3 separate regions of the Homo sapiens genome follow, and regions 2 and 3 are each linked to region 1. Evidence: fine-mapped expression QTL. A gene starts in region 1. Each other region holds a variant in brackets. All regions are shown on one strand. Distances are between the middles of the regions.

Region 1 (4,241 bases):
AAAATAGCTATGACTTACATACAAATGCTCATCAAGTAGCTCACACACAGTCTCAAACGGAGAATGCTGAAATAGGGTCACTACTCAAACTGCGGCAGAGGTAAATGAAGATGCCACTGATTAATAGGCACATGGTCTTAAATGACTGAGCCACGACAAATTTAAATATGACTTCTCTCTCCCTTAAAATAGTCTCTTCTCTAAATCAATATGATAGTCTCCAAACTAAAATTTTCCCATGTTTTTAAATCACTGTGCTAAAAACAAATAGAACTGACCTCTGAAGCCAGAGAAAAATCTTGACACATTTCAATAGGCACTTGTGAACATCTAACAATATTTCCATTAGAAGTCAGTGCATGATACTTTCGTTTCGGAGCCCAGGACCTGGAAGTATCTTTTTCTACATGAGTTTTAAAAAGCGCATCCAGGCTGGGCGCCCTGGTTCACGCCTGTAATCCCAGCACTTTGGGAGGCCGAGGCGGGCGGATCATGAGGTCAAGAGACCGAGACCATCCTGGCCAACACAGTGAAATCCCATCTCTACTAAAAATACAAAAATTAGCTGGGCGTGGTGGCACGCGCCTGTAGTCCCAGCTACTCGGGAGGCTGAGGCAGGAGAATCGCTTGAACCCGGGAGACGGAAGTTGCAGTGAGCCGAGATCGCGCCACTGCACCCCAGCCTGGGCGACAAAGTGAGACTCCGTCTGGAAAAAAAAAAAAAAAAAAAGTGCGTCCAGACTGGGCGCGGTGGCTCACGCCTGTAATCCCAGCACTCTGGAAGGCCGAGGCGGGCGAATCACCTTAAGTCGGGAGTTTGAGACCAGCCTGACCAATATGGTGAAACCCCGACTCTACTAAAAATACAAAAATTAGCCGGGCCGGTGGCAAGCACCTGTAATACCAGCTACTCAGGAGGGTGAGGCGGAGGATGCAGTGAGCCGACATCGCGCCACAGCACTCCAGCCTAGGCAACAGAGGGAGACTCTGTCGAAAAAAAAAAAAAAAAAAAAAAAAAAGTGTCTCCATGCTAAATACTACTGGCCTTCCAGACAAAAGAGTAAAAAGGTATAAAAGGATTCTCACCTGAGGGTATCTGTCTGCCAGCTTTGTACGACAAATATAGTTTCTCATCTCCAAACTCGTATTTGAACAACTGGCACAGATTTCCCGTTTTCTCTTGAAAAAGTGCAGTACTTGAGGGGTGAGGAGGTGGTGTTAAGTTATAACATTCCGAAGTAACACTAGAAGACATGCTCAAATTGCCCTCTTCCCAAGTTTCTTCATACAGACATTAGCTTTTCTCTCAAACCAGGGTTCTTTCACTCTCACCAGATTCTTAGATCAGAAGTCCTTATATTGATTTCAATCTTCTTAGACATTGGGAACAGGAGATCATCATCAGTAGACTTTCTATTCATCACGCAGCTCCTCCCCCTCCTTAAAAATCTAGAGCGATGAAGGCAATAATTGGGGAGGCTGCGCTGTTTTGTTTTTAAAGCCGGGTTGGGAGGGAGGGAAGTGGTGGTAACTGGGACCCCTGGTCTTATAGAAGACGGTGATTAATTCCGGACTTTAAGTGAGATAACTTCGGTCTGCTTTAACCTTTTAAAAACGCCGCCATAAAACTGATTTAAAAGTCAAAGCAAAACAAAACCAACCAACGCTGCCGCTTTCGGAAGTTTCTCACCCCGGACGGGGCCCAGGAGGGCTCACCTTACTGATCCCTGCGGCGGAGAACCCCACGTCCAGCCCTTTATATTTGGTTTTCCAAAATCTGGAAATCCCCCTACAACTTCAGCTCGCCCACGGACGCGAAGATGCAGTCCTCAATCTCCGCGGCCCGAGCCCCGCAGAGCCCTTGGCCTTCTCACCCACGCTGGCGGGCGCACCCCCTGTCCCGCCCGGCCGGGGCGCCCTCCGCAGCCCGCAACCCGCAGCCCTGCAGGCCCCGCACGCTCCCCTCAGGGCCTGGAGCCCGCCCCCAGCTCCCGCTCGCCGCCGCGGAGCCCACCGAGCCGTGGCCGTCTGCCGCGCCGGCCGCGTCGTCCTGCTGCAGCTCCGCAGTCATGGCCGAGGCGCCCAGCCGCGGGTCACCGGTCTCCCGCCGCAGCCGCCGCCGGCCCAGCCTCTCAGGACTAGGCCCCGCCCCCGCCCTCCACCCCGCTCCGTCCCGCCCCCGCCCGCAGCGCGCGCCGGAGGCTTGGCCCACATGCCCCGCCCCCGGCATGCGCGCGCACGCAAGGCGCGCGGCCCGGGGCCGAACAGTTCTGCGTGCTCCCGCGCACGCCCGGCTGACCAGACGTCGGTCACGTGATCCCGGCCCCGCCTGTCGCTGTTGGTCAGCTTCACAGCCGGTGGAGGCTGCGGGCCGCGCTGCCAGTGTCCGGGAACTGGGTTTGCGAATCCTGGGAGCCGCGTTCCTGAGTCTTCTCCGCTCTCTGCCCTCAAAACCTCATTTGTAGGACTGACCTCCGGCTCCACCCTCCCCACGGGCGAGTTAAAACTGTTCCCCCGCCGTGGGAAACTGCCGAATGACCGTGGAATAAAGGATTTCCCATCAGGCTTTGTAGCCATTTCCAACTCCAATGACATGAAGAAGTGTTCACCATCTTTAAGGAGAGAAGGAGGATGAATGCAGTCGCTTGTCTAAAGCTAACCAAACGGACCAAAGCCTCCGTTCATGGGTGTCCCGCTTGGTGCCCTTAACCCTGATGCTCTTAACCTGGGCATGATAAGGAAAATTGCAGTTTTTCCATTTTCGATTTTCAGAAGTTCAAACTAAAATTTTGTGTTACTTTGTTACGTTTGAGCCAGATATTTACGATTTCATGTTAAAAGACCAGGTGCTCCTATTGAATTGTTTTTTGTTTGGTTGGTTTCGGTTTGTTTTTTTTTTTTTCTTTTTTTTTGAGACGGAGTCTCACTCTGTCCCCTCAAGCTGGAGTGCAGCCGCACGGTCTCGGCTCACTGCAACTTCCGCCTCCTGGGTTCAAGCGATTCTCCTGAGTAGCTGGGATTACAGGCACGCTGTACCACACCCAGGGTTTCACCATGTTGCCCAGGCTGGCCTCGAATTCCTGACCTCAGGTGATCCGCCCGTCTCGGCCTTCCATAATGCTGGGATTATAGGCGTGAGCCACCGCGCCAGGCCTGAATTGTATTTTCAACAACTGTGTGGGAATTGTGATTACTGAACCATGTTTCACATTTAAGATACAAATGTGTTATGATGGCAAACCCACTTGACAGGCTGCTGGGTGTCCCAAATCTGCGTAGAGGCTGAGTGTGGAAGCGCGTCTTTTAAGAGTAGCACCTACACCCTTGCCCTGGTCTGGTCTGACTCTCAAGCTACACTTTTAAGTGTGAATTTAACATGGACGGTGGCCTTTCCTATACTCCTGGCATTGTTGTCGCTGGGATTGTTATGTTTCACCTGCAGGCCTCCCTAGTCTGCATGCGGGCGCAGTTTTTGACAAAAGGAAACAGGTACAGGTCAGGTGCAGCTCCCAGGAGAGGCCAGATTACTCTCTGAGGCCTGAACTAGGACTCCTGCAACTTCCACCACCTGGAGATACAGGGATCCGCTTCCCCTGGCAGATTAACTGGCAGATTGGCATGGCTGCGGTGATACTAACTTGGAATCTTCCACATTCAACAGGCTGACTGTGTTTGTGTCTGCGAGTAGTAGGACATTTTATGTATGTGGCTCTGCCATTTTTCCTTTCCTCATGAGTGACTGTGTTTATGGCCTCAACCTGGGTGTCACTGTAGAACAGGTTGATTTCAGGTTGATGCTGGTTTTCTTTTTTTTTTTTTTTTTTTTTGAGACAGGGTCTCACTCTGTCACCCAGACTGAAATACAGTAGTGAGATCATGGCTCACTGCAGCCTTGAATTCCTGGGCTCAAGCAGTCCAACTGCCTCAGCCTCTGAAGCAGCAGGGACTTCATGCATGTGCCATGCCCAACTAATTTTTGTGTCTTTTTTATGGAGATGGGATCTCACTGTGTTGCCCAGGATGGTCTCAAACTTCTGGTCTCAAGCAATCCTCCTGCCTTGGCCTCCCAAAATTTGGGGATTACAGACATGAGTCACCACGCCCAGCCCACATTGATTTCTGAGTCTAGCTTATTTACAGCATTGCCTATTTCTACACTGCTAGAATGCTTTATTTACCATGTCTCTGGAGCAACCCTTATTTGTCTTTACACATTCATTTTAGGAAATTGCATGTTTATT
Region 2 (4,241 bases), 93 kb before region 1:
CCCTATCCTGTGCTCCAGTGGAGGAGTCAGATGGCTCCTTCCACCTCATGCTAAGACCTAGGAACCTGGTCATCTAGGACTGGCTTCTGCCAAGGATCTCTGGAATAAAGGAATGTCTGTAGACTCCTTTCTCACTCTAGGTTTGTTTGCTTCATTTTGGGGCTGGTGGTCACTGTCCCACTTATCAAGGATGTGATTGTCTTGATGATATGGTAGTCCTCATTTCAGAATAAAAAATCAGGGCACAGTGTCTAACAAATGTATTTTTCTGATTTGAGATTTTATTTAGATAAAAATGCTTTAAAAAACTCATAACCTTAATTACATATTTGATTCTTTTATTACTAAGGAAAAATATATTACAAAATTGCAACCATCAGAGAAAATCTAGTGTGAAGAGGCACTTACTGTTCTGAATAGGTTACAAAAATAAAACTTGAAGAAGGTACCTTGGCAAAGGAAAATGAATTATTGTTCCAGAACAGCATCTTAGGACAGAAATTCTCTTTGTGTCCATTTTCAGCCTCAGGTGTACCATTTGAAAGACAACTTCACAATATACCTTTGCTGTTTTATAGATCCTTAATATCCCAAAGGAGAGACATAGGCTTGTTTCTGCTACATTGTGAGGCGATGAGCAGTCTACTCTGTCTTCCCCACCTGAAGGTTAACAGTCAGTCTGAGTGAGTGGTAGGGTGACCAACCCTCCTGGTTTGCCCAGAACAAGGTACTTTTGGTGCTAAAACTAGGAAAGTCCCAAGCAAACTGGGACCCAGTGATTACCTTAGAATGACTGTGTCCAAATACTGCCCAATGTGGTCATGTATATGAAAGAAGTAGCTTCTCAGAAATGTCTTTTACCAAGTGCAAAATCACAGTATAAACTCCTTGAATTTTGTTTTGCTGTGTTTTTTTGTTTGTTTGTTTTTGTTTTTGAGACAGGGTCTCACTCTGTTGCCCAGCCTGGAGTGCAGTTGCATGATCATAGCTCACTGCAGCCTCAAACTCTTATTAGGCTCAAGGGATCCTCCTGCCTCAGCCTCCTGAGTAGCTGGGACTACAGGCATGAGCCACCAAGCTCAGCTAATTTTTAAAATATTTTGTAGAAATGGGGTCTCGCTATATTGCCCAGGCTGTTATCAAACTTCTGGCCTCCTCTTAAATTTTAACCTGAGTGTCAGCAGACCTACCCAGGTTGTGGCTACAAATCAAGTCCCTTCCATAACGATAACCTAAGTTCCTTTGCTTGCTCTGCCTGCAATGGCAGGCTCTCTCCTGACTACCCCACCTCAGGTCTTCCTCTGGCATTTCTGCAGGTCCTCAAGGAGGAGCCTCCTGTTGCTCATAAACCTGTTTGTCAGCTGCAATTATCCTGCAGCATCCACCTTGTTCCTCTCCCTGCCACCTGTCCTCCACTCCTGTAATCAGTTCAAGAATCACCATTGGCCCTGCCAACAATTCCCTCAGGAGAGCAGCTAAAGGGGATGGCTCCTAATGCCCTAAGTAGGTCACTTCTCCAGGTTCAGAGGCGTGCTGCATTCCTCACAGTACCAGGGACATTCCGCCCTCCCCAAGCTGGTGCTGTGCTTTGTCATCTCAGCTCTGAGGTCTCACAACGCCTCTCGCCTCCTGATAAAATAGCCCCAATATCACGAGATAGCCATTGCTCAAGCAAGAATACACAGACTATGACACAAGAGTAAAAAAATTTGCCAAAGTAGCCCAGGACAGTTCCCTCCTTAGAAAAATGCCATTTTTTTTTTCCTGCTGAAATGGAGTCTGCACAGGTGCAACTTCATCTTCTGCAACTCTTACCTTCTTACCCAGAGCAGATTTCTCTTGAAGTCACAGTTTCTCCAGAAAGCTCCTTCTCCTTTTATGCCTGTCCTTTTGTGTATGTCTACTTGGCACGCACAAATCAAAATGATCCCTAGGCAAATACAGCTCTGAGTACAAAGGGCCAGTTTGCATCAAAGGTGTATTCTGGCTTTCTGTGTCTGGTAAGTCAGAAAATGGTTTCCAATGTCTGTTTTATTAGCTACTCCTTCTCAATAAAGTTTCAAAGCTCTTTGGACAAAGTTTCAATCAGGGGTGAGGCTCAATTATCTAAGCATTTTCTTGACCTTCCAGGGTCTACATGAAAGAATAATTTCATTATTATTCATCCATCTGATCATTTATTCACTCACTTAACAAATATTTATTGAGCACTGACCATGTGCTAGGAACCAGTATAAAATGGTAAGACAAAATATATTCTTGTCCCTCATTCAGGCAAATTAGGGAGATA[AT/A]TTTTTTTTTTTTTTGAGACAGAGTTTTGCTCTTGCCCAGGCTGGAGTGCAATGGTGCGATCTTGGCTCACTACAAACTCCGCATCCCAGGCTCAAGCAATTCTCCTGCCTCAGCCTCCCAAGTAGCTGGGATTACAGGTGTGTGCCACCACACCCCACTAATTTTGTATTTTTAGTAGAGACAGGGTTTCACCATGGTCAGGCTGGTCTCCAACTCCTGACCTCAAGTGATCCACCCGCCTCGGCCTCCCAAAGTGCTGGGATTATAGGTGTGAGCCACCGCACCCAGCCAGGAGACAAATATTAATGTAAAATCACTCAAATAAACGTAAATAGTAACTTTGACAACCTTTACAAATTTGGAAAGGGACATGGTTCTATAAGATCATCCAATAGTTTAATCAACCTTTATGAATGTAAAAAAGAGAAAAATATATATACATAAAAAAATCATGCAATAGGAGGGATTTAACCTAGTCAGTGATTCACGGATCAGTACTCAAAGGAAGCGATTACTGGCTGAACAATAAAGGGTGGGTAGCAGTTCCAGATGAGGAGGGGAGATGAAGACGCATAAGGTGAAGCTGGCAAAGTAGGAAGAAGCCAGACCTTGTAGGGCCTTGTAGGCCTCAGTAAGGAACATAGTCTCTATTCTCAGGACCATGGGAAGCCAAGCACGTGGTCCGGGAACAGGAGCTTGGCTTCCAATTGACTGCAACAGTAACCTGCTCTCCTTTGTCTAATGACTTGTCTCTGTGAAATTTCCTTATCACATGGTTGTGTTGGGCTTGCAGGTGTACAAAGCACTTCTACAAATTTTGGTAGTTTTACTGAACATATCTTGAAATGTTTTTGAGTTTTGGAAGAGCAGATATTATTAGTTTTGCTACTGAGGAGAATGAGATGCCGAGAATTTAGGTGACATGCCCATGGTGAGTAATTAACTGAGTCAAGACTTGAAGCCAGGGTTTGGCACCATGGCAGTCTTTCTTCACCTTATCCTATGGCCTCATGGGATGGGTTGCCTAGACAATCTACCAGACCAAAGGAAAAACTCTCGCCAAAGGCCAGGCGTGGTGGCTCATGCCTGTAATCCCAGCACGAGGCAGGCAGATCACCTGAGGTCAGGAGTTCAAGACCAGCCTGGCCAACGCGGTAAAACCCTGTCTCTATAAAAATACAAAAATTACCTGGGCATGATGGCAGGTGCCTGTAATCCCAGCTACTCAGGAGGCTGAGGCAGAGGTTGCAGCAAGCCGAGATCGCGCCATTGCACTCCAGCCTGGGCGACGGAGCAAGACTCTGTCTCAAAAAAAAAAAACAAAAAAAAAAGCTTCTCACTGAAGTCGATGGAAAAACCAAAGACCGTCAAATAAAACCCTCCTTTGTGCTTATGTTGAGGTTTAAACAGGGTCTTTGTTGCCAGGTGGCTCACCTGCTCCTGCTGGTGGCTTGCAGCCCTCACCTGAATCCCGCATTTGCAGGTGCTAATATTTTTTCATCAGCAAGTGATTATGGCTTCCTCTGCAGAGAAATGGACACTAAAGATTTGTTAAGAAAATATTCTGTCTTCCCAACTCTCTTTATAAAGGACAAAAGGAATTTTTTAAATGGGTGTGGGTAGAAACTCTTGATGACATACTGGCCATGTGGCCAACAGCATGTCCTTCCCTGAGAGGGAATGTGATCTGCAGTCTAGTGGGAATCCACATTTAGAGAAAGAGTTTGAGGAAGGAGATGCTGTTCACCTAAAACTGCCACTGTTGTTAGCCACCTGCTTTGAAGGGGAAAATAATGAGAAATAAAAATAGAACTAATTAAATCATAACTTCAACACAGCTTTTTGTCATATAGATCTGTGGCAGATTATTCTCACATCAAAAACATTTCTTTATTGTGGTTACACATGGAGAGGTGTGTAGTCATATGTATCAGAAAGAGAAAGAAACA
Region 3 (4,241 bases), 73 kb before region 1:
ACCACACCCGGCTAATTTTTTGTATTTTTAGTAGAGACGGGGTTTCACCATGTGAGCCAGGATGGTCTCCATCTCCTGACCTCGTGATCCGCCCACCTCAGCCTCCCAAAGCGCTGGGACTACAGGCGTGAGCCACTGCGCCCGGCCTTTTTTGTTTTGTTTGTTTTTTAAAGATAGGGTCTCACTCCAAGCTGGAGTGCAGTGGTATGATCTTGGGTCACTGTAGCCTCGGCCTCCCAGACTCAAGCAATCCTCTCACCTCAGGCTCCTGAGTAGCTAGAACTACACTATACCCAGCTAAGTTTTCATTTTTTGTAGAGGCAGGGTCTCACTATGTTGCCCAGGCTGGTCTCAAACTCCTGGGCTCAAGTGAGCCACCCACCTTGGCCTCCCAAAGTGCTGGGACTACAAGTGTCAGCCACTGTGCCTAGCCCCATCAATAGAGTATCTCTATGTCAGTGAGAACCTAACAAAGAGGATTCATATCAGAATATATAACAATTTTCCAAGTCTACTGAACTCACCTAAAAACAACCAGCTTTACATTCCCTCCTTAAGATGCTTTAAACAAGCAAGGACAGTCCACTAATTAATCTTGAAGTCATCATAGTTAATATGCTATATAACTTCAAGCCACAGAAAAAATTCATCAAGGCACCCCTCCCATAACCATACTCTGCATGATTTTTTTTTTTTTTTTTTGGATATGGAGTCTCATTCCGTGGCCCAGGCTGGATTGCACTGGTGCTATCTCGGCTCATTGCAAACTCCGCTGCCCAGGTTCAAGTGATTCTCCTGCCTCAGCCTCCCGAGTAGCTGGGATTACAGGCGCCCATGACCACACCTAGCTAATTTTTGTATTTTTAGTAGAGATGGGGTTTCGCCTTGTTGGCCAGACTTGGTCTTGAACTCCTGGCCTCAGGTGATCTGCCCACCTCGGCCTCTGAAAGTGCTGGGATTACAGGTGTGAGCCACTGCACCCAGTCAGATTTTGATTTTTAAACTATAAAAGAGTTCATCTTTTGGCACATGAGAGAGTAATGGAAGTCTGACATTCCTGGAGAGCAGTGACTTTTTTCAAACCAGGCTTGTTGGTTGCCCATGGAGGTGATTTGGCAGTCATGGGGAAGCTAAAGGGAGGTTAAGAGGGGCAGAGGCCCAGGCTCCCTCCTCTTGTTTCAATAGAGCAGATCCATTTTTAATTTACTTATATGCTAGAAGGTTCCAATTCCTTAAAAAGGTTTGGCAACCAGTGCTATCAAGTGAGAACACTGAAATTTCTACAATTCTCAAAACCTCAGAATATTATTACCAAGAGCATATACCTGCAATATCTTGCCCAAGGTAAGAGCACCAATGGTTTCTCATGACCTCAATGGCATCCAGATCATCCTTGGAAATGTCATTATTAATGATAAGGTGAATGCAGGGGATGATCAGTTCATTCATCACATTAATGCCCTCAGTTACGGAGTGATCATCATTTGTTTCAAAAAGAGAAGCTGCTTTGGCATTCAGCTCCTACAGATAAAAGGTAGAATTAGGTGGGGAAGAGTCTGAAAAAGATAAATATCTCTTTAATAACAGTCTAAACAAGTGGTTCCCAAACTTTACTGCACATTGGATGTACTTAGGGATCTTTAAAAACTACTGATGCCTGGTTCCCACTTCTGATAAGCTGATTTAATTAGTGTTTAGATGACCGGGACACTGGGATTTTATGAAAGCTCCCAAAGTGATTCTAATGCTGTAAAGTTTATGACCCATTGGCCTAAACTTGTAAGTCAAGGTCATGCTTAACACCTGTTTCAACCAAAGACCTGTTCACTGGTTGTCTATCTCCTCTGAGCATCAGAATCACCTGCAGAAGACACACTGATGCCCAGGGCCCTTCCCAGGGATTCTGGTTTAATTGCTAGGGAGAGGCCTGAGCTTCACGACTGTCTGAAAGCTCCCTATATGATTCTGATGCACACTAGGGGTTGGGACTCAATAATGGAAAGAGTCTAAATCCCTATAATTGCATTACTTCAGAAGCTGAGTAGGATATTCAAAATGTCAATCTATTTGGTGATTTAAAATATAAAAACATGGCTCTAATAAAATTCAGATCCATCAAACCAACAAGATCCCTTTTCAGCTTCAAAGTGGCCCTGCCACACCTATAACTAATACAGATGTCAAAGTATAAATCAGAAAATAAAGCTATTGAGTATATGTCATGACTTAATCTCACCCATTCGGTATGAACAAGGTAAAGGCAGTGGTAGAAATATTGGCCTGACTTCTGTGAAGGGCAAATTTGCTGGGTATTGGTGAAAACACA[C/T]ACAAGCCCACACTCTGAAGGCAGGCCACCCCTTTACAGTTCTCCAAAGGACACACATCACATAAACCCCTGGGGAGGCAAGGGGATGTAGGTCTGCCTTTCCATGTAGTTATACAGTGCAAATCAGGCCAGGAGAGAGTTAGTCTTCACTAGTATGTGACAATGATGTTATCAGAACAGCAGGACCAATTCTTACAGTTCCTACCTTTATTTTAAAAAAATGGAGTGTCAGAAGTCACTAAAACTTTAAGTCTACCAGCTTAAATGTGAACATGGAAAAAATGCTGCATTCCTTCCACACACATTTATTACATGGTTCCTACATGACAGGCACAGAGGAAATGGCTGAGTGAGAAAAGGATCTGAGCTCAAGGAATTTACAACCTAGTAGGAAAGCAATGTGATAAAATCTATAATGCAGGCATACATGAAGGGCACACAGAGGGATGACTGATTCTCATCTTAACTTCTATCAGTTATCATTGAAGAAGAATGACATTCACTAAAAGTAACTGAAAAAAAACCTGTTCCAATGTAAAACTGTTCATGAGAATTTTGGGGGGAAATCTACAACCTGTTGGAGATAGTCTGTTTTGAAAGCCATATATTTTCCTGGCTTCAAGGAGCAGAGGTAAACAACAAAAAAACCTTAAGGCTTTACAAACAGTACAAACCAGAAGGCATTTTCTTCGGTATAAAGCAATCACGGATTCTTTGACCCCCCGGCGGGGCCCCTTCATCAGCAGGGCAGCATTGCTCTGGTAGGCATATACCAGGTAGGAAAGTGCCTCTTGGTACCTTAGAAAAATGGGAGATAAACAACAGCTGAGTGCTCTTTTACTAAAATCTAGGGCTTAGACCTCACTTTTCCCCATTTCAAGAACCTACTTGGCTGCAATTCTGAAAAAGTGAAGGACCAAAGACCGTAGCCAGTCTCATCTCTTCTACAAATTGGCCTAGCCATCCAAAGCAAATATGAAACTTCCCTAGGCCTCAGGTTTTCCCATCTCTAAAACAAGAAATGCTCACTAGGGTCTATGTCAACTCAAAAATTCATTTTCTGAGTTCATCTTCATTGATCACAAAGACAGCCTGGCACAATATTATCTCGCAGCTAATACATCTAATCATTTGAAGGATGAAAAACCATGTGTGATGTTTAGAGCAAAACCAAAGCACTGCAAGAGAAGAGGCACACTAGTGTATGTGACAAGGGAGGTTATGCATGGCTGTGACTCTTAGTATTCCCAGGTAGGCATCTACAGAGAACAGCATCCTGACTAATAATCTTGGTAAAATAAAAGGCCAACATACTTTCCTTTTTGATAGAGTTCTAGGCCTGTTAGGAGATACACAGACACTTTTCGGAACAAACTATAATCTTCATGCCACTTCTGAAAAAGAATGACGATTATTAATAATCATGATCATAATAGATTGTTAGTGTCCTTCCCATCTAAGTTTTAAATTCATTACAAATATTTACTGAGCACATCTGGCTAGCCACAAAAATAACAAACAAAAGCTTTCAGATAAAAACCTACTCAACATTTAAAATAAAAGTCTACCACTGACCTTAATTTTCAATGTTCTGTTCCTTTCACTTGAGTAACAGAAGTACTTATTTCCTACGAGCTTCGGATTTTATCCTAATTTCTAACAGCTATGTAAAAGATATTCAGCTCTAGCTTAAGTGAATGACCTCTTTAGGACTGGTAAAACCATCCAGATATTGAAAATATGGAAGGACACGGACATTTCTAGTCATACAGAGCAAGTTCAAGTTCAGTAAGTGTGGTGAATACACCTTGGGTGGTACATAACATTGTTTTACATGGGATGCAATTGAAAACATGTGTAGCTATGTATTTTAATGCGTATTTTTAAAACTTTATCATTTAAAACAAACCAAAAG

Direction of the effects. Alleles are on the strand shown, and positions count from the first base shown. SD is a standard deviation of normalised expression in the study named.
With allele A in place of AT in region 2, the expression in monocytes of the gene that starts at base 2,142 in region 1 is lower (large effect, 0.84 SD a copy in Quach 2016).
In carriers of allele T in region 3, the expression in sigmoid colon of the gene that starts at base 2,142 in region 1 tends to be lower than with C alone (small effect, 0.23 SD a copy in GTEx).

What was found. PIP is the estimated chance that this variant, and not a neighbour inherited with it, causes the effect.
Region 2: its variant is the best candidate, but not a certain one, in a credible set for the expression of USP28 in monocytes (Quach 2016, PIP 0.90).
Region 3: its variant is the best candidate, but not a certain one, in a credible set for the expression of USP28 in sigmoid colon (GTEx, PIP 0.56).

What each region holds. Positions count from the first base shown.
Region 1 is chr11:113,873,431-113,877,671 of GRCh38, forward strand. It overlaps USP28 (ubiquitin specific peptidase 28), which reads right to left and starts at 2,142. Exons shown (of 26, transcript NM_001346252.4): 1 at 2,015-2,142. The coding sequence starts at 2,071. RefSeq lists enhancers at 30-530, 2,117-2,411, 2,401-2,650, 2,701-3,362 and silencers at 1,841-2,200, 2,221-2,380.
Region 2 is chr11:113,780,409-113,784,649 of GRCh38, forward strand. CLDN25 (claudin 25) reads left to right here. Exons shown (of 1, transcript NM_001101389.1): 1 at 1-77. The coding sequence ends at 77. Among named protein-coding and RNA genes, the nearest start is that of CLDN25, 2.7 kb to the left of the region's middle. The variant AT/A (reference allele first, on the strand shown) is at 2,291.
Region 3 is chr11:113,800,158-113,804,398 of GRCh38, forward strand. USP28 (ubiquitin specific peptidase 28) reads right to left here. Exons shown (of 26, transcript NM_001346252.4): 23 at 3,641-3,720; 24 at 3,001-3,124; 25 at 1,326-1,521. Among named protein-coding and RNA genes, the nearest start is that of CLDN25, 22 kb to the left of the region's middle. The variant C/T (reference allele first, on the strand shown) is at 2,327.